Linked DNA regions of Homo sapiens. The protein of the gene in region 4 purifies or fractionates together with the protein of the main gene of each other region. This does not show direct contact. Each region holds a gene or a part of one and is shown on either strand. Other genes may lie near its edges.

Region 1 (6,897 bases), on a different chromosome or scaffold from region 4:
ATTCCATCACTACAAAGATTTCCTATGCTACCTCTTCATATCTACACTCACCCAGTTGATAGTTCATTGTGGTTCTAATTTGCATTTCCCTAATGATGTGGAATATCTTGGTGATGCTGAGCATCTTTTCATGTGCTTATTCACCATTTTCATATACCTTTCTCATGTCCCCTTTGGTGAAATGTCCACTCGTGTCTTTTGTCCATTTTCTAATTGTGTATTTTGCTTTTGCTATTTTGCTAGTGTTCTTTATATGTTCTAGATAGCAGCCCTTTGTCAGATATGTGGTTTGCAAATATTTCATCCTAGTCTTTAGTTTGTCTTTTCCTCCTCACAGGGTCTTCATAGGCTGAGTTTTTCCTTGATTCGTCAATTTTTGTGTTTTTACATTTCCATAATAATTATAAAACCATGTTGATAACTGTATTATTTAGAAGCATAGCCAAATTGCTGACATCCTCAGTGGCCATTTACTGGATTATTAAAGAATTATTTTAAAAACAATTTCATGACCTAAATCACCATCCATGAGTTCATGATATAATTGTAAATGGGCAGCTCTGCATACCCTAGGGAAAGAGCATCTGCCTGTATTTTAGAAACATTTAAATACTTGTAAATATGACTGTACAATTTCTCAATATTCTACTATGAATTATTATTCTTTTTCTTGGGAACAACTTATAACAATAGCTTAAACTTTGACTACTACATTTCATATACAAAACAATTAAGAAAAATTTTAAGTAGTCAAAAGCAGTCAGATGTGGACAAATGAGCAGAAGTCAACAATGACTTTGACAAACAAAATAACGATGGCAATAACAAAAAAACCATTAATTTTCTTATGACTAGAATGATACGATTCCTTCAGTGTCTTCCTCATTATCCACATAAGTGAAGAGAATACCCACTTCTGAAAATTAGAGGTAAAGAAGCAAGCAACTGGAACTATTATGTAACTGTATCTGATTCAGTTCTTCTCCTTAATCCACTCCCACAATGTGCTAAGTTTACACCCCATTACCGTTGCAGGTCTTGGCTACAACTATACTGTCAGTGTTGACCGAGTTCTCACACTGTACTGTTTGCTACGAGAAAAGGCAATATAAGGCTTGAGGTACAGTCTCCCCCTCTAGAACCTCACTAGAGAGCTGGATAAACACCAAATATAAATCAAATTTCATATCATTCTAGGAAACACAAAAAGAAACACATAATGATTGAGAAACCTGTAACAATTATGGAGAATCTAAAAGTAGGAAACTTTGATGCTACCCAGAGTGATTTAACTACTAAAGTAGCCATTTCATTGACATTTTAGATATATATTTATGATGAGAGCTAGTATTAAATGGTGTTTTAAATTATGGGTCATGAGGTCAATTCATTTTATAAAAATGAATACAATAGTATACAGCACAGTGTAAACTCTCAAAAAATATTAATCATTCTTTTAATGACTATTATTTTGAAAAATGTATAACAATTCAATTCAGTACCAAAAATTTAGTGACATCCCTTCCACAATTCAGCATAACAAACTCTTGGATCCTATAAGCATAAGTTTTGTAGGTTTACGCATAGAGACAAAATGATTATTCACTCTTTAGACACAGTAACATTCATCTTCCACTCCTTATACCAAAGCTCCAATTCTAACCTCAATAGGACTGAACTCTGTACCAGAGCTGCAAATAATTCTGCATGCCTTGGTGAGTGGGGGTGAGAGGAGGCTGTAGAAGAGAATAGTGCCGACCATACCATGCAAGTCCTTGTAGATATTTGGATTTTAGTACAAATACAGAGAGAAATCATTGTAGGATTTTCAGCAATGGAGTAACCTGATTTACATTTTCAAATTATCACATTTTCTATTGTGTAGACAATGGGTTAGACGAGGATAGGAGTAGAAATAGAGAAACTTGTTAGAAGGCTAATGAAGCAGCTCAGACAAGAGGAAAAGATGCCTCTATCATTAGTAATTAAGATGTAAAATGAACAGAATAGAGACACATTTTGGAGGTAGCACCAACAAGTCTTGACGAATAAAATATGGGAGAGAGGGAACTCCCAGATTTCTGTCTTGAATGAGTAGGTGTATGGAAGTACCATGAAGTGTGACAGAATAAGAGTCCAGAAATAAGCCCTAAGAAATTCTAACATTGGCCAGGCGCGGTGGCTCACACCTGTAATCCCAACACTTTGGGAGGCCAAGGTGGGCAGATCAGGAGTTCAAGACTAGCCTGACTAACATGGTGAAACTCTGTCTCTACTAAAAACACAAAATTAGCCAGGTGTGGTGGTGGGCACCTGTAATCCCAGTTACTCGGGAGGCTGAGGCAGGAGAATCAGTTGAACCCAGGAGGTGGAGGTTGCAGTGAGCCGAGATCGCACTATTGTACTCCAGCCTGGGTGACAGAGCAAGACTCCGTCTCAAAAAAATAGAAATTAAAAAAAAAGAAAGAAAGAAAAGAAAAAAAGAAAAAGAAGAAAAGAAAAGAAATTCTAACATTTAGAGGTCAGCTAGGATAGACAGAGACAGTGAAAACCCTTGAGGGGAGGCTATAAATGTGAAAGAAAAACCAAGAAAGAGAGGAGACAAGTGTATCAAATAGTATTGGGAGATCAAATAAAGCGCTGTCATATATGTACACTTACACACACAGAGACAGGATTAAAAGGTCTGACAAAAGGGAGGTAAAGTGGAAATAATTCCTCAGAAAAGATTGGCAAGTAAGGTGAGGAGACAGATCATTTCAACCACTGGGAAATAATAGCATGAAGAGAATGTGTCAGAAGTGATGTTTTAGGTGGGGATCTCAAGGCATGTTCAAATGCTGTTAGGAAAAATCCCACAGCCAGCCAGAAGTCGAAGATACAGGATTAAGGGAAATGACCAGTGGAACAAGATCAGTGAGAAGAAGAATGGGTAAAGGCTCTAGATCATATGTGGGAAGGTAAGTCTTTGATAGAAGGTGGCAGGAAGTCAACTTCTCAATAAATGGTAGCTTAAGATATTTCTTTTATTATTCATATTTGCATCATAGTCCACAGCTCCTGGTTTGTACATATTTGTATTGCAAGAAAGACTTGATGAATAAACAGTTCTAGCTAAAGATGAGGTCCTGAACTAAGTCTACCATCAGCAAAACCTGCAGCTGTTGTAGATTTTACTTACACTATGCTAAATGTTGTCCTCTGAAACTCCAGCTAATGTTGCATGCTTTGAAAAAAAGAAAAGAAATAGAAAACAAAATCCAAGTCAGTAATTGTGAAATGCCAGTAAAGAATGCAGTTTTGAAAAGTAGGGGTAGCGGGAGGAGCAATAACTTAATAAGAATCTTGCTGTTTGCGTATTTTCGATTTCTTGCCCACTAGGTGGTGGAACAGAGTCCCCATCTAAACGACAGTTTTTTTCCTCACAGGTTTGTGTTTCTCTCACAATGCCTACACAGGTCTTTGCAGGCCAAAGAAATCCAAGAAATTCAATCTCTTCAAAATTGCCCCTTGGAAAAACAGAGCGCTCGAATGACAAGTGTGGGGAAGGCGGGAGGCGACGATGCGGAGTGCGGAAACACAAGGACCAGGGGAGCTAAACTACATTTCCCAGAAAGCCACGGGCTGGCCTACAACCACCGCGCCCTCCAAGCCTGCTGGAAGCCTCCGTCTCGCTTCTCCAGTAACCGGTTTGCCGCTGTCCCCTTTTCTAAGGAACGTAGAGAAAGCCAGGGAAGGAAAGGCATTTTACTGCAGCAGCGAAGGTTTAGCCACTAGAGTGTCTTTCTCAGCCGTGGTTATTCCGACCTTCGCTTGTAAAGGCATTGGGAAACCCACGGCCCACGTGACCAGCCCGGGTCATGTGACTCCAGAACCCGGCAGCTGAAGTCTGTTACCCTGACAACTGGTGGACCCGCACAGACCTTCCGGGAAAGCGCGGAATTCAGAGGCAGAGGTAGGTGGTAAGGTGTGAACGCTGGTTTCCCACCCAAATCGCCCTGGTCGAGGCCGTGCTTCATACTCGAGCGAAGGGCTTTAATTTTCCAGGTCATTCCCCTTCTCCGCCCGGAGCCCACGGCAAATGCGTCTTTGTCTTCCCTCCAATTCCCGAACCCGCGCTTCTGGGGACGGGGTCGCAGCCAGGCTTGAGAAGCTTTTAGTGGAGCTCACCCCTGACCAAGCTATTCAGGCCAAGACCTTAACCGCACTTACCCTGAACTGATCGAAAGTGCAAATGAGGGGAAGAGGTGTTACTCTGCACGATGGGGAGGGTATTGTCCGGGTCTGCAAGCCCTCTTCCCCTCCCCCATCTCTACAGAAGAAAGCTGGGATTTGAGCTGCTCTAGGGAGTTCAGGAGCTGGGGGTCGACCCAAGGTTGGGTTCATTAGGTGTCTAGGGGAACGCTTTCCGTTGCAAATCACTGGATTCTGCTTGTGTTCAGCACATAATTTTTGTCGGTCTTCCCTCGCTTCAAAAGAAACATAGTACTGATTTGTGTACTCCATTAACTTTAAGTATTCTTTAAGTATTTTGACTAAATTACTAATTCTTACTAAATTCTATTTGTGTATATTTTGAAACATCCCCGTATCTGGATACAGTCTGCTTTACGAAACTATGCAGTCTGCTTTACGAAACTATTACTATGGATTGGTAAAATAACGAGCCGAGTGATAAGGCAGCACAAACTGTCGTGTGCTTTGCAAGAAAGAAACAGTCCTTTGGATTTGCTAACTTACAGTTTTTAAGATTCCCTGTGAGGACCTGGTTTGTGTTTGAGAGGTACTAATTAACACATGCACACAAACATAGGTTTGGGAAATATTGTAGAGACCACTCTTTAACAATTGGATGTTAACAGATGAAAACATAATTCTGAACGTTGAGTACAAGACATCCTGTCAAAGCTGCTTTTCCAAATCAGTTTGCTTAATGAATTAGGAATCTCTTGACCAGCTCTTACTGGTTAAAAAAAATTGTGCATATATACTGAATCATAACAAATGTCCGAAGTTTAAGTCTGGTCGTGTTCATGATCTGATGGATTTCCTCAAAAGATGTTTATGTCTCTTGTCATTTAGTGTTTCCAATGTTTGAGGTACTTTAGAATGTTTACTTTGGGAGGTCAAAATTGTTGACTATGGCTAACTGTTCCCAAGAAGAGCTAGATGAAGAGTTTGAACAGTTTATGAAAGAGGTAAGTTTATATTTTTAAAAGCTATATTGTCAAATTTGTCTCAAAAGACTCATCCTTCAATTCTGTCATCTCGAAGATACAGTTAGTCCATCACCAAACTCTGAATTCCCATCATCCCTCTAGCCCTGTCCCTTTTCTGCCACTGCTAGTTCAGTGCCATCATCTCAACTGGGCTATGGCAGCAGTTCTCAACTCATGGTCCAGCATTCCTTTCACCACACTGCAGTCAGACTCTGTTCCTCCCCAGTAAAAGACTCTATTGGTCTCCCATCACATGTAGAAAAAAAAAAACAAACAACTCCTCCTTACCATGGTTTTAAAGCCTTTCATGATTTCACTCTTACATATCTCACTGCCTTCATATCCCTCTTTCACCCACTTTATTTATTCCACAGTGGCCTTTTTTCTTTCCCAGACATTGCAAGCTCATTTCACCTTAGGAGCTTTGCACTCACTGTTCCCTCTGCCAATAATGCTCCTCCCTTACTCTTTACCTGGCTGGTGAAAATCTTAACTTAAATATCACCACTTCAGAGAGGCTTCTTCTGTTTATCCAGTAAAAGGTAAACACAAAGTCACTTCTTAATCTGGTATGTATTTAATTCTTTTTATAGCACTTAGCACATTAATTATTTTTCTTGTATGGGTCTGTTTTCTGCTTCCCATTATAAGAATGTATGGTCTGTAATGTGATGACTCTACGTTCATTGCTATTATATATCAACATGTTCACTACTATGTCTACAGTACCTAATAAATACTTAATAAATATTTGAATGAGTATATTAAATGGTTATACCACGTTCTGTGTACAGTCATGCACCTCATAAAGATGGTTTGGTCAGCAACAGACCACATATACAACAATGGTTCCGTAAGATTATAATGGGGCTGCCCTATAAAGGTGTATCTTTTTAATCTTTTGTACCATATGTTTACTTTTCTATGTTTAGATACAGAAATGCTTGCCATTGTGTTACAGTTGCCTGCAGGATTCAGTACAGTACATGCTGAACAGCTTTGTAACCTAGGAGCAATAAGCTATACCATATAGCCTAGGTGTGGAGTAGGCTATACCATGGAGCCATCTAGGTTTGTGTAAATATACTCTATGATGCTCCTATGATGAAATCCCATTTCTCAGAACATATCCCCATAATTAAGCGATGCATAAAACTCTATTTATATAAATGGAGGGGCCTTGTAGAGCATTCAAGAGAGTCACATTTTAAGCTATTATACGTTATACATTCTTGTTAAAAAAGGGAGTTTAATGTAGTACAAAAAAACTTCATTATCCGTCTCATGGAAAAATAATGCCTTCTTTGTAGAATTGTTTTAAGGATTTAAAAAAGCATCTACCAATTGTCAAGATGTAATAGGCACTTGGAATAAGTTTCATTTACCATTTGAAAAGTTGATTTTTTAAAATTTCAAATACAGACACATTTTGAAAATTAAATTTATAGGAATGATTTTTATTGTAAAAGATAGCAGAACAGGCCTTTTAGAAGATGTTTTTATTCTTCCCTCATTTACCACCCTTCCAGCACACACATTCTCCAACACTCTCCTTCCCCCACCCTTCTGTCTGTGTCTCTCTTCCTCTTATATCCATCCTCAGTTGCAATGTGTCATTTTTTTTTTACTGTGAAAGTCATGATTTTAGAGTCATGCTAACTTTTCTCACTTTGATAAA
Region 2 (7,024 bases), on a different chromosome or scaffold from region 4:
TAAGTGTGTGAGTGCTGCGTGGCCTGGCCTGGTCGCGTGTTAGGCATGTGAGTGGGCTCCACATGTGCACGTCCTCCTTGTGTCCCGGAATGAGGCCAGGTCTCCTCCGTCCTCCCTCTAGACCAGAATGGAAACGACCTTCGGACCCGCCTTTTCAGCCGTCACCACCATCACAAAAGGTGAGCCCTTAAGCCAAGGCCAGCCCAGGCTGGGAATAACCGGGGCACCCCCATGCCCACCCTGCTAAGGACTGAGGGACACTTCCCGGTGAGCTGGTGTTGGGTGCCAGTGCTGGGCGCGGGCAGCCTCACACCGCAGCCTGTGTCCTCACAGCCTCTCAGCCCTGGGCCTCCCCACTGGACAGGAGTCGGGTGTCCTGCTCCTTGTGCCTCGGTGACTGTGCTGTGCCCTCTCTCCCTGCCCTCTTCATCCCCTCTAGGGAGGCTTGCCCTGACATCTCCAGCACCACCACACAGCCCTGTCCCTTGTCACAGTGATCCCCAGCTTGTCCCCAGTCTCAGGCTCCTGGCCAGCCTCCGAAAGGTCCCGTGTGCCCGGAGGTCTTCTCTTGAGTTTGGCCCTAGGGCTTCAGTAACAGTGCTGCAGTTGTGACATGTTAATAGGAAGGGAGGGAGAGTGGAAGAGATCCATAAGTCTGGTTTGTTTTTTTGAGACGGGTGTCACTCTGTCACCCAAGCTGGAATGCAGTGGCGCAATCTTGGCTCACTGCAACCTGTGCCTCCTGGGATCAGTCCTGCCACCTCAGCCTCCCAGGTAGCTGGGACCACAGGCACCACCACACCTGGCTAATTTTTTTTATGTTTGGTAGAGATGAGGTCTCACCATGTTGCCCAGGATGGTCTCAAATTCCTGGGCTCACGTGATCCTCCTGCCTTGGCCTCCCAAAGTGCTGGAATTACAGGCATGAGCCAGCAAGCCAAGCCCAATAAATCTTCACCTGCACAAGACCACTGGGCGGGATACACGACAGAAACCTGAAGCTTCCCTGCTGCTTCTCAGTCCTATCCCCTAAAAACCAGAGTGCTGCGCTTTGAACGCAAGCGCCGTGCTCAGGGAGACCATGCGGAAGTGGCAGTGCCTTCTTCCCGAGGTGCAGGGCCAGGGACCCTCATTCCGGGGTGGGGTTCTGGGGTGACTTTGTTCTCTCTCCTTTCTGGCACTCTGCCCTTTGTAGAAGCACACTGGCTGCTAATTAGCTTTTTAATTGCTCTGATAAACCTGGCCATGGGGTCATAGGGCCGCCAAGGACACCTGCTTACAGTAGCGCCTCTTTGCTGCTGGTGATCCCCTCAGGGGCTCTCCAGGGGCCCTCTTTTTTTTTCTAATCCTACCCCCCAAAAAACGGTGCCTTTTCATCTACCCTTAGAAGCCCCATGGCCCCTGTCACACGGCGGAAGGTACCCATGATGGGGCAGGGCACGGCTGCTATGCCTGGCCCCTCGGCGGCAGGGATGGGCAGAGCCAGGCAGCAGGGCGCCCACAGGTACCTCACCTGGCCCCTCATGACAGATGGGGAAACCGAGGCCCAGTCACACGGCAGCCTCTCGAGGCCTCAATCTCGAGCCCAGGGCTCATCGTGACATCTGAGCTGGGCTGGTCCTGAGTCCGGGAGGTGTCTCTCTCTGCCTCCCACGTGGACTGACCGGCCGGTAGCCCTGCCCTCTGGCCCTGGCCAAGCTGGGGTGACGTGTGGGCAGGAGGAGGGAGGGCACTTCAGCTCCTGCCCCAGAGGAGGCCACCAAAGCTGGGGCCACTTCCTGGTCCTGGCTGTGCCAGGGACACCAGGATGCGGTCCTGGCCCTTCTGTATCCCAGCCCACACCTCAACCTCAGCTTCCCCCTCTGTGAGTGGAGGCTGTCAGGGAACTCACCTGGCAGAGGTGCCTCAAGAGGCAAATAAAATGGCACCCCCAGCTGCTGCCAGGCGGCCTTCAGAGTGATGGCTGCGTGCTGGCCATGAGCCTCAGCTGGCTCAATTGGGGTGCTGGGGAGCTTGTAGAGGCCCTGAAAGAAGACCCTGCCTGGGGTAGGCAGGGCTGGGGCAGGGGCTACCGGGCTCAGCGCTGGGACTGTCCAGATGTAGACCGAGCCCAGCGTCCATGCTCCTGGCACTGGTTTGACCTTGAGAGGGAACCCAAGCTTCCCCCGTGCCATCCCTGCATGCTTTCCTGCCTGCCTGGCCCTGGGGAGGGCTGTGAGCTACAGGGGACCCACAGGGTCGGGTATCCAGCATGGGCCCCACCTCCCCCACATCTGCTGAGGGAGCCCCCACTGAGACGCCAGCCCTCTTGCCTTGCAGCTGACGGGACCAGCACCTACAAGCAGCACTGCAGGACACCCTCCTCCTCCAGCACCCTTGCCTACTCCCCGCGGGACGAGGAGGACAGCATGGTAGGTCCCTACCCCCAGGAGCCCGTGTGAGCCTCAGCCTCCCCCCATCCTCCCTCCTGGGGGAACCAGGTCCCAGGAGGAGTTGACAGTGAGCTGGTGAGGCACAGGAGAAGAAGAGCACCTGTGGATACCCTGAGGCCTCGGCAGACATGGCAAGTCTGTGAGAAAGGAGGCTCCTGTGGCTGGACTGTGGGTGGCAGGGGGCAGCCAGTGAGGGCAGCTGGGTCAGAGGGCCTGGCACCTGCAGGCCAGGATGAGGCATATTTGGCTCCATCTTAAGGGAGGTGGAAACCACAGAAAGTTCAGTCAGGAGGATAGCACAATAAAATACATGCTTTGAAAGCTTCCTTTGCTGCTGGGTAGGGAATGAGCGGGGTTGCTGGGTCCAGGCAGGGTTTGAGGAGGGGTCCTGATGAGGCGGGGGGAAAGGTGTGTGGACCTAAGCTGTGGGGACACCAGAGGCAATGGGGTGGGGGTTGCGGAACCTGCGCCAAGTGCTGGGGGAGCCGGAGAATTCCCTGTTGCTGGCTGTGTGAGGTGCAGAAAGGATCAGGGCAGTCGGGGGCTGGCTGCTGGTACCTGAGCCCTGTGGCCAGGGTCTCAGTGGCCGTTCCCTGCCATCCTGGTCAATGGCGCTCATTGCTGGGCTCTGGGCCTACCCAGGGGACAGAGGCCAACTCTACCCTGGGCATGAAGGACTGGCCCAGCAGGGGGTGGGGGTGTGTGGGGCCTCTCTGGCAGCTGCCTCTCTCCAGTGCTTGGACACCAGGTGTGGCGGCCCTGCTGGCCCTCTTGGGACCGAGGCCTTTTCTTTTTTCCTTTTTTCTTTTTTTTGAGACGGACTTTTGCTCTTGCTGCCCAGGCTGGAGTGCAATGGTGTGATCTCAGCTCACCACAACCTCCGCCTCCCGGGTTTAAGTGACTCTCCTGCCTCAGCCTCCCGAGTAGCTGGGATTACAGGCGTGCACCACCACTCCTGGCTAATTTTGAATTAGTAGAGATGGGGTTTCTCCATGTTGGTCAGGCTGGTCTCGAACTCCCGACCTCAGCTGATCTGCCCCCTCCTTGGCCTTCCAAAGTGCTGGGATTACAAGTGTGAGCCACCTTGCTCAGCCAGAAAAGAAGTTTTTAATTAATTGAACAAACACACCTGTGTGCCGGGCGCTGTGCTAGGCCGAGGGCGAGTTGGGTATGTCTGGGCCCCGTCCCCTGGGCCTCTGCCTGCCTCGGTCTCCACAACCCGAAGCCACGAGTCCTCCATGTCTGTGGTTCCCATAATCACCTGCTATCCCCATGGGTCACGGTGGCTTTCAAGAGAGGCGGGTACCTTCTCTGTTTGCTGATAGGCCCACACAGGGAGTCCCCCTCCTGCCCTTCCCCCGTCCCCCAGGCCTGCCTGCTGTCAGCCCCTACGCCCAAGAGGGTGGGAGACTCTGGGGTAGTATTGGGCAGGCCCGGGAGAGTGGTTCCCGTGCCAGCTCCTGCTCTGCTCTCGCCCCTGGGGCTCCCTCTGCTGCTGTGGGGCCTTGTGACTCACTTTCTCTGACTCCCTTCTGTTCCCCATGTGCTGCTTCCATGCAGACGGGCCCTTGGGACCCAAAGGGAGGTGGGTACATGGCACACAATGCCCCCCGCCGGCCTTGGGACTGGTTTGCCTCTGTGCTCTGTGGGTTTCATACCCAGGCTGCCGGGAAGGGGGCCAGAGGCTCGGCAGAGCAGCAGCTGGGCCCCTCTGCAGTCAAAGCACCAGGAGAGAAGCCTTGGGCAGTGTGGCTCTTGGAAACTTCTGGAGGTTTCCAGGCCAGAGGGGAGGAAGGGACAGTGTCTGCCCCTCCCCCAGGCTCCCTTGTCGGTGGCTCAGCCAGAGGCAGGCACCTGTGGCCCTCACTCCTGCCCTCGGGAAGCTCAGCCGAGGTTCTCTGGGGGCCTGGCCCTGCCTTCCCTCTGAGCCTCCCAGCTGGGCCTGGTGTCCCCCACCAGCAAGGCCAGACAAGCAGCCAGGCCCGGGGGGCACCTGGAGCCCAGCCGTCGCTCCCTGCCAGCATTCCTGGCCCTTCCATCCTGCGGTCACGGCCTCGGCTGTCCAGGATTGGCTGGTGGAGGTGCCCCCTCACGGCCCACATTCCCCCACGGGAAGCAGGAAGCAGCCCGGGTATATGGAATTGAATAGCAGGAAGTCTCTCCATTTACACAAAGAGAGGTGGCAGGCGTGAGCGGGCAGCCCAGCACCCCGGCCCAGGCCGCCCAGGCGGGCAGGCAGGGACCTGGGTTGCATCAGCTCCCCACGCCCACCCACGGCCCCCGTGGACGAGGAGAGTACCCGCAGGGACCGGGGTGGCCCCAGGGGTGCTGCTGCCCTCGCGCTTCCGCCGGGCTGGGTCCTGTCCTCCCCGAGGCTCTGACCCCGTGCGGAGCCCCCCGACAGGCGCCTCTCCCTCCACACAGCCCCCCATCAGCACTCCCCGCCGCTCCGACTCCGCCATCTCTGTCCGCTCCCTGCACTCAGAGTCCAGCATGTCTCTGCGCTCCACATTCTCACTGCCCGAGGAGGAGGAGGAGCCGGTAGGTGTGGGGGACTCGGCGCAGAGCGGCTTCCAGGGCTGTCACCGCAGCCGTGGCACGGAGGCACCTTCCCCTCCGCCATGCCCGCCCAGCTCACAGGGAGAGGGCGGCTGGGGCCTGACGGGAACTGCAGTGCTTGCTGGTCCGTGGTGGGGACTCGAGGGACCAGGCCGGGTCCCCTGGGCATGTTCCCCCACTCCCCCTTCTCAGGGCTGCCCGGGAACTGGCAGCGGGAAGCACAGGGCTCCAGCAGGGCCCTTTCTAGTCTCACCCCAGGAAGGAGGCGGGCGAGGGCGGCCAAGGCTGGGCGGCTGAACTCATCCTCCGGGGTTGGGCCCTGCCTCTGGGGCCACAGACCTCGCTCTCCCTCCTGGGCCCCGATCAAGCCCCCCAGCTCTAAGCAGGCCTCTCTCAGGACGTGACCCTGTCCTCAGAGGACAGCCAGGCCTGGAGCAAGAGCGCCTGGGTGCCTGGGTGGTGGCGGGGCTGAGGGTGGCCTCCCGCCATCGCCTGCCTTTCCCGCTTGGTTCCAGGAGCCACTGGTGTTTGCGGAGCAGCCCTCGGTGAAGCTGTGCTGTCAGCTCTGCTGCAGCGTCTTCAAAGACCCCGTGATCACCACGTGTGGGGTGAGCCCGCCGCCCTTCCCAGCCCCCCTGCTGCCAGAGGCCCCCACAGGACCCCAGGGCTCTCGGGGGCCGGGGCTGTGGCGCCCTGGCCTTGGTCAAGGCCTGTCCTGGCTGCACTGGGCTTGGGGTACAGCGAGGCCTGTGGCTGCCATGGCCATGGACTAGGGAAAAAGAGGACCCTGCGCCACCCTCAAGCCCGCCCTTTGCCTCCACAGCACACGTTCTGTAGGAGATGCGCCTTGAAGTCAGGTAGGTTTGTGCCCCGGCCCAGGCCTGACGCCGACCGTGCCCATGGCTGCCGAGCAGAGGCGGGCGGCTTCTCCCTTGTCCCCTGCACAGCGTCCGGCCCTGTTTGGCCTCTGCTGGGGTTGGGATGGGGCTGCAGCCGTCCTAGGGACGCTCAGGCTGAGGCTCGGGACCTCCATGAGCAGAGTGGGGACACCCCAAATTCCAGTGTGTCCAGACTCAGAGACCCCACAGTGGGTGTGGGCCGAGGCTCCCCATGCCAGGGTTGGCACCCTCTGGGGAGGCCTTTCTCACTGGCGAGGCTGTCGTCCTCCCGCACGGCGCCCGCTCCTGCCTGCCTCTCCGCACTCTGCCCTCTGCCCTCTTGGCCCCACCCCACACTTTTCCGGGCACAGCTGAGTGTCACAGGTGACACTCCCTCAGCACCTGCTGCTCCTTCTTGGTGGCCCACCTGTGCCCCCGTTCCCATGTTGCGTGCCTCAGAGGCGCAGATGGACAGATCTGGCCCCCATTAGAGGCTCATGCCCACCCGGGTGAGGGAGCGTGTGCCAGGCAGGCCGTGAGGGTCAGCACGCCCTCCTCTCCCAGAGAAGTGTCCCGTGGACAACGTCAAACTGACCGTGGTGGTGAACAACATCGCGGTGGCCGAGCAGATCGGGGAGCTCTTCATCCACTGCCGGCACGGCTGCCGGGTAGCGGGCAGCGGGAAGCCCCCCATCTTTGAGGTGGACCCCCGAGGGTGCCCCTTCACCATCAAGCTCAGCGCCCGGAAGTAAGTGCCCCTCCCTGGGCACCTCTGCCTCCCTGGGGGCTGCTTCTCAGGGCTCTGGCTGAGGCCTCCCCGCATCCCGCCCTGGCACAGGGACCACGAGGGCAGCTGTGACTACAGGCCTGTGCGGTGTCCCAACAACCCCAGCTGCCCCCCGCTGCTCAGGATGAACCTGGAGGCCCACCTCAAGGAGTGCGAGCACATCAAATGCCCCCACTCCAAGTACGGGTGAGTGGGGGGCGGGCGGGGGTGGGCCGGGGTGGGCGCAGGCCCTCCACAGGCTCCGCTGAGAGCTGCCCGCTTGCTGGTCCCGGGGAGGTAGGCCGGAGCTGGGGCCACACCGGGGTCTGTAATCCTCTCTGAGGCCCAAGGCCCTGGAAACCCAGAGGGGGAGCCGAGGGCGTCCAGGA
Region 3 (7,124 bases), on a different chromosome or scaffold from region 4:
GTGATCCTCCTGCCTCAGTCGCCCAAAGCACTAGGATTACAGGTGTGTGCCACTGGGCCTGGCCTAAGGGGACCTTTGATTAATGTTTGGCCTGCATCAAACTGGGATGTAAGTGAGAAATAAACTTTTATTTTGTTAGAGCATTGAGATGTTGAGGTTGTTACAATATTTTAGCCTAGCCTGCGTCATGAGATTTGTTATATGGGTTGAAGGTTGACTATCCTCACTGCCTGATAATCTGATGTGCTCATCTCCCCAGGAAAGACAAACTGCTACATGGCCCTGATGAATACTTCCATTGGCTGCTGGGTACTCACCTTCCTGAAGAGGACCTGGCTAAGCAAGGTAATATTTGGGTTTTAGGCTTCTTTTTTTCTCTGGTTTCTTGGTTGATATTTTAATTGACAGAGTTTTCTTTATCTATGTCAGTGCCTCTAGGCAGACAATGATGTCTTATTCACTAGAAAGATTTTTCCTAAGCAGAAGTTGCCAAAATATGACAAACTAGGGGAAAAAGTTATGACTTGGGAAGGCATGATAAAAGGGTAATTTTCTTAATTTATAAAAGGATCTTATAAATTAACAAAAAAATAGATAAGTTGATTCAAATCAGAAGGGAAAAAAGATATGCAAACAGCCAATTAGACTCATGAATCCTCAACCTTTGATATGGTTTGGATCTGTGTCCCCAACCAAATCTCATGTTCAATTGCAACCCTCAGTGTTGGAGTTAAGGCCTGCTGGGAGGTGATTGGATCATGGGGCTGGTTTCTCATGGTTTAATACCATTCCCCTTGGTGCTATCATCCTGAGAGTGAGTTCTCATGAGATCTGGCTGTTTAAAAGCATGTGGAACCTCCCCCCTCTCTCTGGGTCCTGCTCCTATCATGTAAGACATCCACTGCTGCTTTGTCTTCCACCATGAGTAAAAGCTCCCTGAGGTCTCCCAGAAGCAGAAGCCGCCGTTCTTCCTGTACAGACTGCAGAACTATGAGCCAATTAAACATTTTTTCTTGATAAATGACCCAGCTTCAGGTATTTCATTATAGCAGTGTGAGAATGGACTAATACAGCCTCTCATCACCCCTCACTAATTCTACAAATGAAGATGCTGGGCTGCAAATGTACACATTACTGATAAGGAATTTCCCTGCTCCCCTGAAGGCACCCCCAACCCCAGCATTGGTGAAGCTTAAACAGGGCAGGCTATGATAGATAATGGCTGGTGAAGACAGCAAAGACTTGGCAGCACTCACCATGGCAAAGTTCCTCACTTGATGTCTATCCCCATCATTTTGCACATGAGGAGGTGGAAGCATGGAAAGGTCAAGTTACCCATCTATCTAGGTAACTATTTCTTCTTTGATGTCTCAAAGATACCTCTCACTCGCTGTTCACAATAGGCTCATCATCTTTTTTCCCAGACTATCTTCTTCTCTTGAATTCTCTTTTTTTTTTTTTTGAGACGGAGTCTCTCTCTGTCGCCCAGGCTGGAGTGCAGTGGCGCGATCTCGGCTCACTGAAAGCTCCGCCTCCTGGGTTCACACCATTCTCCTGCCTCAGCCTCCCAAGTAGCTGGGACTACAGATGCCCACCACCATGCCTGGCTAATTTTTTGTATTTTTAGTAGAGACGGGGTTTCACTATGTGAGCCAGGATGGTCTCGATATCCTGACCTCCTGATCCGCCCACCTCGGCCTCCCAAAGTGCTGGGATTACAGGTGTGAGCCACTGTGCCCAGCTTCTCTTGAATTCTTAATCTCTGAGAATGGTACCCCCATCCCACCCCAGACTTTTATGCCACAGAGCCAGGAGGCCCCGTGGGCTCTTCCTCTCCCTCTGGCTCTGTGTTCTGTCATCACTATCTCTTGTTAATTCTGTCCCCTGACCATCTCTCCTAACCACATGTCTATCTCCAGCCCCACTGTTATTTTTCCTTGATTTGGAATTACATCAGCCTGAACTAGGGCATTTGCAACTCATCTAACCATCTTTGGTGTTACTCTTTCTCAGAGCAGCCAGAATGGCCTTCCTAGCACCCAAGTCTAATCATGCCAGACTGTTGTTCAGAATTCTGAGGTGTCTCCACATTAAGTAGAGATAAGATGCCTGTTGATCTGACCTCTGCCCACCTGTCCTGCCTCAACTCCCGCCACCTGCTGCATGCACAGGTACATCCTAATACAGCTGGATTGCTGGTGGTTGCCCAAACATGCCACACTCTCTTGTTCCTTCCATTTTTTCAGGCTATTGCACGTGCTGCTCCTTTTGCCCAGAATCCTCTCCTTTACCCATCTCCAAGCCCCTCCTCATGTTCAAGTCTCAGCTCCAAAGCTCCGCCCTCTGAAAACAGCACTGTCCTGAGATTCAGCTGCTCTTTTGCCTCTGCATCCTCTGCATCTTGACCTTGCTTCTCCTCTGACATTATCCTCTAGACTTGCAGGGGAGGTGTCAGTCTTCTGGGGAGTCAGTGAACTGGATGGAAGGGCAGCTTCTTCTAAACTTTAAATCCCCAGTGCCAATCTAGGACGAAGCCTGGTGAATGATCAATATCTATGTGGTGAAAGAAAGAGATGATTAATCAATAAGACATTTGCCCTGTCTGGGAGCTCACGTATAGCGAGGCGATGGCTTTGTAAGCCCCTCACTCTGACAGCAGGCTTGTGGGCAGGGAGGACTCTGACCCTCCTCAGGAGTTGGGAGAGGCAAAGGGGGTCAGCTACAAGTGTACACACATCACATTCACCACACCATGCTTAAAAAACAAATCCATAAGTCGCAGCTGCCAAGCATGATGTAAATGTATGGGGATTGAGGGACTAATTCTGCTGGCCTGAGGTTTTTTCCTGGGTGGGGAGAGATTCAGGCCCTGTTTTGTCTTTCACTTTTCACAAGGAACAGCCAAAGGGAACCTGGCTCCTCTGGTTCTCCATCCTTCCCGGAGTCTCTTCCCACACTCCAGAACGGGCCCCTTTCTCTGGAGGTGGCCAGCCCAGATTTGGGGGGTGGCCCACTGGTTGGCCTCCTTAAACTTTCCTAGAACTGTGCCACAGTTTAAGGGACAAACTTTTGAAAAACAGAACAACAACAAAAAACTTGAAAGACTTCAAACCTTAATTTGTCTGAGAAAATCCACTGTTAACCCAATAGCTTGCTTGAATGGAGGTGTTAAAGATCAACAAAGCCAGACATTAGTTAAACCATGAAAACAGATTTTACTCAGTAACTACTTACAGTAGGAGAAAAAGCTGATCATTCTCATTTGTGCATAGCAGAATGGGCGTTTTAAAGGGTGAAGGAGAGAATAGGGCCGGGAAGCTAGCAGGGGATCAAGTGAAAAATCATGAAGGGGCGGTCAGTATTAATGACGGGCAGCTGTGCCTGGAGCTGGCCGTTATGAAGCTGGGATTCTATCCTCCCACAGAGACTGGGGGACAGAGGCCTATCCTCCCCATGACTGCATTTCAGAGCAATGGCTTTCAGGTCCTTGAGAAAGACACTTCTGAGGTGTAGGCGATACATATACATCTCAAAGCAACAGAGAAAGGATTCACAGTTGTAAGCCCTTTTAAGAAAATATCCTAAAAAAGGGAGGTCAGGGGCTTTACCATCGGGTGTTGGCTAGAATAAACGGGGAATTCTCCTGGCTGCCTTGAGCTTTCTCGGGAAGACATTTTACTGGGGTCGAGGTTAGGCGGCAGCGGAGGGTGGGGGACCTTGAGTCATGCTCCTATAAGCCACGCTAGAGTTCCTCGTCTTTGAGTGCAGAGGTTTAGACTGTGTCTTTGTGTGCAGAAAGTCCTGCAGTTCTCACAGCGACCTGCCAGAAAAAGTCGTTCCCAAATGTTTGTAAATCCTCCGTTGGGCAACCCGCCTTCACGTTCTGCGGTGATCTTGTCGAGCGACTAAGCGTGCAGTATTAGCAGAGAAGGGGGTGGCAGAGTGCTGGCGCTGAAGGTCATGTTGCATGGGTAACTGTCGTGTTGTAGGGGCGGGGAAGAGGGAGGAGACACTGACCACCCCAGAGGCCGCCCCATTAGCTCGCTTGCTTTGGGCGGCGTCGCTCCCACGGCGCCCAGGGTACCCCCGCCGCTGTCTGCCTGTCTTCCTCCATTACCGCGCAGGCTTGGTCACCGCATTAAGGCATTCCCGCTCTCCGCGGAACTGCTCTGCCGTCTCGGCGGTGAAAGTGTGAGAGGGTCCGTAGTTGGGTCAACTTTGACTCCTCTCGCCTGCCCGGATCCTTAAGGGCCTCCTCGTCCTCCCGGTCTCCGGTCGCTGCCGGGTCTGTGCGCCGGTCCGCGCCCGCCCTCGCTCTGCCATGGGCGCTTCCAGCTCCTCCGCGCTGGCCCGCCTCGGCCTCCCAGCCCGGCCCTGGCCCAGGTGGCTCGGGGTCGCCGCGCTAGGACTGGCCGCCGTGGCCCTGGGGACTGTCGCCTGGCGCCGCGCATGGCCCAGGCGGCGCCGGCGGCTGCAGCAGGTGGGCACCGTGGCGAAGCTCTGGATCTACCCGGTGAAATCCTGCAAAGGGGTGCCGGTGAGCGAGGCTGAGTGCACGGCCATGGGGCTGCGCAGCGGCAACCTGCGGGACAGGTACAGCACAGCGCGGGCGCGGGGCAGCGCGGAGCCTGCCTGGGATGAGGAGCGGGGGGGCAGGTGGGGCCCGATCTATCTGGGAAGGACTATAGAGGTTTGCCACCTGAGTTTCTGGGCTGACTGTTGGGCCGTTGGTCGTTTATCTGGGAAGGCCAAGTTCATGCCAGGTTTATTTTTGGTAAAGTAGGTAGGGGCAATCCCTTGCCCTTCCCTAGACGAGAGATTCCTCCTCTGTAACAGGAGGGGGTCTGACCTGTATCTCCAAGTCTCCTTAGCTCTAAAGTTTGTGATTCTATCCTAGTATACCAAAGTAGAAAAATAAAGCTATTGGCACTAGAAAGCAGCAAGAAAGAAACCAAGTGTTGTTCAAGGACATTGGCTTAGGCCTTGCTGGGCCTTGTTCCTCACATTTCTCCAATCCTGGGGGTGCCCTGGAGGCCTGATACACTTTGATGAAGGATGAGCAAGTGGCATGGGGACTCTGGGGCAGAGGTGATACTTGCCATTAAGGGAATAGTGTCCCCCCTTCTCCCATAGGCAGAGTTGTTCACAGCCTGGAACTTTGGGACTTTTGGGCCTGACACATAGACATTTCATACTTAGGATTAAGATGCCTTCTTCTTTTTTTTTTTTTTTTTTTTTGAGACAGAATCTCACTTCGTAGCTCAGGCTGGAGTGCAGTGGCACTATCTCAGCTCACTGCAACCTCCATCTCCCAAGTTCAAGCAATTCTCCTGCCTCAGCCTCCCAAGTAGCTGAGATTACAGGTGTGCGCCACCACGCCCGGCTAATTTTTGTATTTTTAGTAGAAACGGGGTTTCACTCTGTTGACCAGGCTGGTCTCAAACTCCTGACCTCAGGGAATCCACCAGCCTCGGCCTCCTAAAGTGCTGGGATTACAGGTGTGAGCCACTGTGCCCAGCCAAGATGTCTTCTTATCTGGCCGAGATGGTTTAGCTGTGGGCCTGTGTCCGAGGGGAGGGAGGTTTGCAAGTTGATCATTCAAGGATTCCTCTAGCAGAGAGCCACCTGCATCCCTGTGTTCACTCCAGGACACGCGGATGCACTGTTTTCTGAAGACTGCTGCCCTCTTAAAGAAATGTGGACTTCCATGGTGTTGGAAAACTTCAGAGAGTCTTAGAGAAGTGTTGTGTACACAGACCATATGAATCATGGGAGGATTTTCATTCTCCCACCCTTACCCCAGATTTCTTATCCTGGAGAGCTTTTTCAACTATAACTTCCTGAGATTCCCATCCCAGGACTACGGAAGCAGAATCACCAAGAGTGGGGCCAACTCGTGTAGAATGTTTAAATCTCCCCCTGGTGATTTTGATGCTATAATTAAAGGATTTTATCCGAGACCATGAAGAAGAAGAGGATGTTTAGAGCTTATTCAAATATGAAGGATAAGAAAAGCCTTCCTATTACTGGAAAGACTTCAGGCTGTGTGGGACTGGACACCTTCCAAAAAACTGGGAGAACCAAATTCTCACGATGCATGTCCAGAGAAAATTAGTGTTGCAGGCTAGGTTGCACTACTTCCTTCCTCGCTTGAAGGGTTGGTTTCACAGACAGTTTCCAGTTCTAATCTGCGTTTCCTCTGATCACCTGAAGAACGGTTTCTTTCCCACTTCTCTTTGTCACTGCTTTGCCATGACTACTGCAACCATGGAAAGAAAATACGTGTCCTTTGCCTGTGCTTTTTGCTCCCACTGGCATCCTAAAATAAATACAACTGTATTACCTTTCCCTTGTTTTAAACAATAAACGCTTAGGATGGGGTGGGGTGATGTGAAGCCTGGGGTAGAGGGAAAGGCAATGAAATTAATGTTATTCAGTGTTAAAATGCAGCAGACACTGAGCTAAATCCTGTCGCATAGATTAGCATATTTAAACCTCATAACAATCTTGTGGGCTAGATAGTATTATCACCATTTTGCAAATAAGGAAACAGTATCAGAATGAAGGAGTATCCCATCCAAGGCCAGAAAACCAGTGTGTGCTGTGGGGATGTGAACTCAGATCTGTGTGAGTACAGAACTTATGCTGTTTGTATGAAACCAGTGCATGATATAAAACTATAAGGATTGCACTGAGGATCAGGAGACTTTGGGCGAACTTCTACAAAGTTGTCTCATTTGCAAAAGAATGAGGTTGAACTTCATGGTCTCTAAAGCCCCATTTTAACTACATTTTATTTATCAAAGCATAATTAACAATTTGAAAGCAGGCTTGCTGGAGAGAACTCTGTTTGATAGCCGCTGTCTTCTCCACCTGACAATTTAATAACACTACTACAAATGTTCCTAGAGTTCAGGGAAAGGCCTCATTTAATGAATTCCATTCTGAACCTGTGTCTTTGGAACTAACTGTTCCAAGGAGCTGGGATTTTCCTCTGGAAGTGCTCTGGGTCTCAAATTTCTAAAGGTATTTTGTTCAAAGCTCTTAGTATACTTGTGAACACTTGGCTTGAGCACCCTAAGCATTGAGTGTTTAAAGTCCACCTGGCAGAATGCTGGCATTCG
Region 4 (7,178 bases):
CAATCACACATGCTCTTATGGGAAAACAGGCAGCTCTCTCCCTGGTAAGAAAAATATGGGTCTCCACCCCACCCCACCACACACACAAAAAAATCTCACGATGCCCCAGAATGCAGTTTCTTTCCTTCGTGACGTGTTGTGAAGCACGTCAGCTGCTCCTTGTTGCTGTGCAGATCACCCAACATTAGGTCACCGAGAGAGACAGCAGCTCTTGCTCACACAGCTGATAGGATTAGGAGATGGTGCTTTGTCAGCCCTGATTGAGCCCAAGAAAACCCCCTGCATACACAGGTGAGATGTGAGGAAGAGTGAATGTGAGGGACCGTGATGTGTCTGGGTTGTTTGGTGCAGGCGTTTTCTTTTCAGCAGTGCATTTGTATTGTCTTCTCTGTGAAGTTTGCAGTCTAGGGGATTCCTATTAATAAAAATCTATGCTTTTTCAGTTATCTGGTCTCAGAGATTGGCCACATGTACCTCACGGGATTTTTGTGAGGCTCAAATAAAATTATATATGTGAAAGAGTTCTGAAAATATAAAGTTTTGTGCATACGAAAGGTAGGAATCATTTAATTACAAATTTCACATAAACAATCAAGTAACTTATCCCAGATTTGAGGGAATAATTATATAAAGACATTACCTTCCTTCCCAGTCTACAATACCCTATCTCTCCTGTGCTTTGCCAGGAGATATATATATATATTATATATATATATTATTGTATATATATATTATTATATATTATTTATAATATTTCAAGGTTAAATCCTAAAGCAATTGATATTTTCTAAAAGCCAGAAATACATTAATTTTTAAAGAAGCCAAAAGGTGATAAAACAAGACCATAAAGTAAGTCTTTAAGTAAAAAATGAAAATGATGCATAAGACTATTTTAAAGCAGGGGAAAGAAGACCATATTATGCTGTATTAGATTATATCTCTTTGATGGTATAATCCAAATGTTACAAGACATTTCTTCTAATGACATGAGAAACACTTGAATGAAATTAAGGCGGCATAGATATTATCATCGGTAAAACTTGCCTTTTAGAACAGTGGAAAAACAGGCTTGGGTTCCAAAAGTACAGAGCTAAGAGGCATCTGAACACTAAATCATCAGCCTTTCCCTCTGCTAGGTTGCTATGGCGACAGCAAGGCTACTGCACAGCCTCTCAGTGCCTGCACTTCTGCAGTAAAAGCTGTCACTGAACACATGTTGGATTTTTTAGGCACACACCCAATCATCAGATACAAATACATTGTGGAGGCAGCTTTATCTGAATCATTTTCAAAACAAGTTGTATCTATGTTCTTTATCTTGCACTGATGGGCCCCTTATGGGGTTATAGAATTCACTCATTCAGGCATTAATTCATTTGACAGTTATGTATTGAGTGTCAACTGTATAACAGGAATTGTACTAGGCACTGCCTACAAGCTTTGGTGAAAACAAACAAGTAAATGGGGAATTCTGAGGAGATCATAACAGCTCTCTTGGGGGTAAAAATAAGTGTCCTGGAATCATCAGGGGAGGTTTCCTGGAAGAAGCTGTCTAAAATGAAACAATGTATCTTTAAGAGTTGAGGAGGATAGGTGGATGTAGTGCAAGAAATGTTCTAAACAGAGGCAGGTGCAGCAGTCTCGACGAAAAAGAGAATACAAAACCTCCACCTCCGAGAACTGAAAGTGCTACAGTTTGAGCAGTATCCATTTGTATGTAAGGGAAGAGTGGCAGGGACCAAAGGGACAGGTTAGGGAGGGGAGGGAGTATCTACAAAAGAGAGGAGTGGCAAGAAATGAGATCGGAGAGGTAAACAAGGCGGCCAGATCAGGAAAGCCTTGTGTGCCACATTAAGGAGTTTCAGTATTACCTGGAGGACAATCAGGAAATCATTAATGAGTTTTCACGGAGAAGCATGACTTGATTTAGCTTTTCATAAAGGCTTGTGGAAAAATGGAGACACTGATCGGAGAGAAAGGAATAAGAGGCAAGGCTGAAAGCAAGAGACCTTGAGTTAGACCACTATTGCAATAATCTAGGGTGACTGTGGTTTACACTCTACACGAAGATAATGGAGACAAATAGTGGACAGAAGTAATCAGATTCAAGACCGTTATTACTTGGGTGGCATAGAGATCACTTGGTGGTTTATGCTATGTGTGGGTCAGGTGAATGAGAGAAAAAAGTCCACGATGACACTGAGGTTCTGACTTGGCTAACTCAGTGGAGGGTGTTTCTGCTATTAGGTCCCCAGTGTCAATTCTCAATTCTAAGTAGGGAACTCAGAAGCATCCATTAACTTTAAAAGTTTGTTCTTATCTCACAGTATATGATCCCAGGCTCATAATTTTAGGAATAATAAGTTGTATGAATCATCCTGGACCATCACTTTCCTGAGGTCCATATTTGAAACAGCTGTGGGTGTAGAAAGTATGAATTAATCACCTCTTCTTCCCAAATAAAGAATCTTAAAATTACCAACCTCACTGCTTGAGAGAGCTAAGTAGATTGAAAAGGCATGAAGATTTATGGAGGAAGCTCTCTTTTGGAGTTATAGGAAGAAGGGAAATTGATTCCACTAATCCTCTGGCTTCAGGCTCTCTCTAGACTCACAACATATATTCTTAGGCTTGAGAGTTGAGGACTCAGAAATGCTGTTTGGAGGATGGATGAAAGGGGACAATGACCCTCAGTTTTCGAGGAGCACAGTCCTCCTATGTAGGACACTGGTGCATAAGGATCAGAGTGTCGCACTGCTTGGAATATTCTCCAATTCTGAATAAAGGGTATATAAGTCATTATACATGGTGAATTCCACCACCAGATAAGATTTAAGGGTAGCAATTGTAATAAATCAAGGCCCTTGGCCCAGCTGATGTACCCTATTCTAAGTCCCCAGTTGGACAGATTTTCGAGCTTTCTTAAACAAATTTGTGTGCATCACAAATGCTTTTTCTGCCTGTCATGTAAAAGGCATCAACAAATATTGACTGGATCATCTGGACCTGACTTAGCTGCCCTTTGGAAAGTTCTGTTCAATCAGCTGGATAGAGCTGTTTGTTTTCCTCACCTAACCCTCACAGCTATCCTAGAGGTAGGTATCACTATTATTATCCCTCAATTTAACAAGGGTAAATTTGAAGTTCAGAAGGGTCAAGAACCGTAGGCGTAGGCCACGCATGCAATGGCATCCGCATGTAATTCGAGCACTTTGAGAGGCCTGGACGGGATGATCCCTTGATCCCAGGAGTTAGAGGTTGCAGTGAGCCCTGATCGCGCCACTGTACTACAGCCTGGGCCACAGAACGAGATGCCGTTTCAACAGCAACGGAAAAAAAAAAAAACAAAAAACGAAACAACAACAAAAACTTTAGGCATAAAGGCACTCAGGCTGAAGGGACCGATTGGAGTGCTGGCTTGAACTCGTTTTTCTGAGTTCAATTCCAGTGCTCTTCCCTTAGCAGTGTGCTGGAGCTACTTCCTGGAGCCGGGCAGCTGCAGGGCAGCGCTGGGGAAAAGACTGTTCTCTGGCTACATAGCAGCCTGGCTTCTCCAAGCCGGAGGGAGCTGCGCTGACCACTGAAGGCCTTTCTGATGCAACCCCTTCCAAGTAGAATCCATCGCAGCCTTTCAGATCCCGGAACCCAGAGGCTGTGTCGGTCCTGACGCACTGGCTTGGCTGGGCTCCGGTACGAGAGGGATCTCTGCAGCTCTCGGGCGAGGCAGTTGTGGGGAGCTGTAGGCTGACTTAAGACCTGGAGGCCAAGGAGGGGTGGCCAGGGGAAAACTTTCTCTATTTTGTCTCTCTGTGATGTCGCAGCTTTTCTCAGTCACTCCATCCAACGCCACCCACTTCAAACCTGAGATCAAGTGCAAAAAAAAAAGAGGGTGGGGTCACCCCTGGGCTGGAGATGCCGCTAGCCGCAGCCTGCCTACACCGGGCCGAGCTCCTTGGAGAGGGAGGGACACCGGCTCTGGCTGGGGGGGCGCGGAGTGCCGTGGGGAAATCGGGCGGGTGGGGCGCGCCCAGGCGCGGTCGAGTTGCCCCGAAGGCCGCAGGTGAGGGAGGGCGTGGGAGGCGCCCCAGGAGCTGCCTCTAGCGAGTGCGGCACCACGTGTCCGGCCGGGGCGGGGTCGGGCGTGCCCTCGGAGCCCAGAGCAATCGGCGGCAGTGGCGGCGGCGGCGCGTTGGAGCCTCACCAAGAGCCGCCGCCCGCAGCCCGCGCCGGCTCAGCGCAGTCTCCTCGCTCCGTGCTCGCAGGTGCCTCCTCCTGGACGGCGGCAGCGGCGGCGCGAGGAGCCGGCGGGCAGCGGCGCGATGGGGCCCCTCCGCGAGAGCAAGGTAAGGAGCGCGGGGCAGTGCGGGCACTGGAGGGCGGGGAAGGCGGGCACTGCGGGGCGAGAAGCGGCGGGATGAGAGCTGGAGGGGTGACATTTAGAGTCTGGGGAAAGGTGGAAGGAGGTGGTGGTGGGGTCTGGAGAAGGCAGGAGGCATTGCTTAGGAGTTGAGATCCAGGAGATGGGGAGGTGGTACTGGAGGAATAGATTTTGGAGAATGACATGATTGGAGGGTTAATCCCACCTCCTGAAACTGGGACTGTGGGGTGTAGCTTTCAGTTGATATCCTGTGTGTGTGATGTGAATGAAAGGAATTTGATGCATCCGCGACTGGGAAAAGAGGACTCCCGCGTGTCAGTGACCCTGCCTTAGCTCAGGGTCTGCGGTGTGCCCGGCGGAGTGGCTGGCGCATGGTACCTGCTGGGCGGCAGATGTGCAGGGCGAATCCGAGGCTGCGTGCGGCTGGCGGCCCCCGGGTAGAGTGGATGCCTGAGGGCCCTCCGAAGTTCCCCATTGCTGAGGTTTACCCTTCAATTTATGCCATGTGCCGGCCTCCCAGAGGTGTTTATTTTGGCCGTGACCCTTCCTGGTAAGCCGGTGGAAGGAACAGTAGGTCATGTTTCGAAAGGGTGTTTGTTACCTAAGCCAAAGAGTCCCTTTCAGTGGCAGAGGTTGGAGGAAGCAGTGGAATTTTTGCAAAACGCTCCTCCTAGGAATCCATTTTCATAAGGCAGGGTGGTGGTGACCCTGCAAAGCACTGGATTTGAATTTCGTTCTACTTCTGGCATGGTGTGCAGAATTGCCTAAGCATCTCTACCCCATTTAGCCTGTTTCCTCATCTGAAAATAGGGACATTCATTGGTGTGCTCTCTATGTACAGTCTGGTGTGTAAAGATCAAATGAGAAAATGGTTGGAAAAGCACTTTATAAGTTGGAAAACATTGTGAAAATATTACTGTTACGCATTTTTAAAACCACGAAATGGCAGGGTACTTCATGCTGCGTTTTTAAGGAGAAAGAAAAATCTCTTCTTATGGATGTCCTGTAAGGAAAACAAAAATTAAAGATGATGTAAAAGGTGGAGCCATCTTCCCGAGTATCGGATTTGTGTTTGCTTTTCTGTTGGCAACAAGCCTTGTGTACCAGGATATTAACGAATAATTAAGATCCTGTCCAGAAGAGGAGGGATTTTAAAGATAATTGTGTGTGAGCTATCAGGAAATAACTGTTCCAGGTATAGGGTTCAACTTTGTGAGGAGACAAGAAAACAAGTCAGACTGTCACAGCTAATTTAGGGAAAGCAAAATGGAAGTCTGAAGGCTATCAAGTAAGCCAGAGTGTGGTGTTAATAAAGAGCCTTTGGGAGGCAGAAGCTTGAATGTGATAGAAGTCAGGGTGGGAAGGTGAGTCAGGACCAGCATAGGGAAGTAGGATGGCCTTCCAGCTAGTGAGTGGAGGTGTGTATATGTGTGTGTGTGTGTGTGTGTGTGTGCCACACAGACATGTGCTATTCAGTAGATTAGAAAGGTTAACTCATTGGAAGAGTTTTGAAGCTCATTTCAGCAACTGAGATAAGAAGGACTACTCTGTGAAGACTCAATACTCAGAAATGTGATTTCTTAGAAATTGATCCTTGAAGGAACCGACAGGAGTTAAGAGAGGGAAACGCGTTTCCTTTTGTTTTCTTTTTTGATGTCCAATTTTGAGAAGGAGCACAGAGTGCAGCATCATGACAAGGAGATTTCTCGAAGCCGAATTCCCCGGTTGATTCTTCGGCCCCATATGCCCCAACAACAGCACAAAGTGTCCCCAGCCTCTGAGTCTCCTTTCTCTGAGGAAGAGAGCAGAGAGTTCAACCCCAGCAGCTCTGGGCGCTCAGCGAGGACCGTTAGCAGCAACAGCTTCTGCTCAGGTACAGTACCCTCGGGAGGCCACCAGAGGCGTGAAGCGTGTGCACTGCAGGTGCATTGTGAATGGGCCCATACTGGGTCCCTTATAGCCTAGAACTACACTTCTACTATTAGGATGAATTGTAGAAGGTGGTACATTTCTGGCTGTTGTGACCTACAAACACAGCAGTTTCATATAGTTCAGTTTATTGGAATCTCACACCTGAATTTTCATATGTTATTCTAGCTTATAATTTCGAATGTAAAATCTAACTTCTTGTTTCTATGACTTTTTTCCTTTGTTTTATTATACTTTAATTTCTGGGATACACGTGCAGAACATGCAGGTTTGTTACATAAGTATACACATGCCATGGTGGTTTGCTGCACCCATCAACCCATCATCTACATTAGGTATTTCTCCTAATGCTATCCCTCTCCTAGCCCCCACCCCCTGACAGGCCCTGGTATGTGATGTTCCCCTCCCTGTGTCCATGTGTTCAACTTCCACTTATGAGTGAGAACATGCGGTATTTGGTTTTCTGTTCCTCTGTTTAGTTTGCTGAGAATGATGGTTTCCAGCTTCATCCATGTCCCTGCAAAGGACATGAATTCATCCTTTTCTGTGGCTGCATAGTATTCCTTGGTGTATATGTGCCACATTTTCTTTATCCAGTCTATCATTGATGGGCATTTGGGTTGGTTCCAAGTCTTTGCTATTGTGAACAGTGCTGCAATAAACATACGTGTCCATGTGTCTTTATAGTGGAATGATTTATAATTCTTTGGATACATACCCAGTAATGGGATTGCTAGGTCAAATGGTATTTCTGGTTCTAGATCCTTGAGGAATCGCCACACTGTCTTCCACAATGGTTGAACTAATTTACACTCCCACCAACAGTGTAAAAACGTTCCTATTTCTCCACATCCTCTCCAGCATCTGTCCA

The links.
Region 1: the proteins of SYBU (region 4) and CEP162 purify together in Homo sapiens (affinity purification with mass spectrometry; 2 studies listed by BioGRID and IntAct, with this or other methods). This does not show direct contact.
Region 2: the proteins of SYBU (region 4) and TRAF7 purify together in Homo sapiens (affinity purification with mass spectrometry; 2 studies listed by BioGRID and IntAct, with this or other methods). This does not show direct contact.
Region 3: the proteins of SYBU (region 4) and MTARC2 purify together in Homo sapiens (affinity purification with mass spectrometry; 2 studies listed by BioGRID and IntAct, with this or other methods). This does not show direct contact.

The regions. Positions count from the first base shown.
Region 1 is NC_000006.12:84,224,638-84,231,534, reverse strand, and holds the start of CEP162 (centrosomal protein of 162 kDa), read left to right. Parts: upstream 1-3,891; 5' UTR 3,892-3,955; intron 3,956-5,082; 5' UTR 5,083-5,141; coding exon 5,142-5,198; intron 5,199-6,897. UniProt on the Homo sapiens protein: Required to promote assembly of the transition zone in primary cilia. Acts by specifically recognizing and binding the axonemal microtubule.
Region 2 is NC_000016.10:2,165,758-2,172,781, forward strand, and holds part of TRAF7 (E3 ubiquitin-protein ligase TRAF7), read left to right. Parts: intron 1-99; exon of another isoform or gene 100-121; coding exon 122-179; intron 180-2,319; coding exon 2,320-2,411; intron 2,412-4,856; coding exon 4,857-4,973; intron 4,974-5,506; coding exon 5,507-5,599; intron 5,600-5,814; coding exon 5,815-5,848; intron 5,849-6,433; coding exon 6,434-6,617; intron 6,618-6,707; coding exon 6,708-6,842; intron 6,843-7,024. UniProt on the Homo sapiens protein: E3 ubiquitin and SUMO-protein ligase that plays a role in different biological processes such as innate immunity, inflammation or apoptosis. Potentiates MAP3K3-mediated activation of JUN/AP1 and DDIT3 transcriptional regulators.
Region 3 is NC_000001.11:220,744,211-220,751,334, forward strand, and holds the start of MTARC2 (mitochondrial amidoxime reducing component 2 isoform a precursor), read left to right. Parts: upstream 1-4,111; 5' UTR 4,112-4,321; coding exon 4,322-4,593; exon of another isoform or gene 4,594-4,605; intron 4,606-7,119; exon of another isoform or gene 7,120-7,124. UniProt on the Homo sapiens protein: Catalyzes the reduction of N-oxygenated molecules, acting as a counterpart of cytochrome P450 and flavin-containing monooxygenases in metabolic cycles.
Region 4 is NC_000008.11:109,641,801-109,648,978, reverse strand, and holds the start of SYBU (syntabulin), read left to right. Parts: upstream 1-4,156; 5' UTR 4,157-4,262; coding exon of another isoform or gene 4,263-4,319; coding exon 4,320-4,343; intron 4,344-4,756; exon of another isoform or gene 4,757-4,850; intron 4,851-5,788; exon of another isoform or gene 5,789-6,031; coding exon of another isoform or gene 6,032-6,046; coding exon 6,047-6,251; intron 6,252-7,178. UniProt on the Homo sapiens protein: Part of a kinesin motor-adapter complex that is critical for the anterograde axonal transport of active zone components and contributes to activity-dependent presynaptic assembly during neuronal development.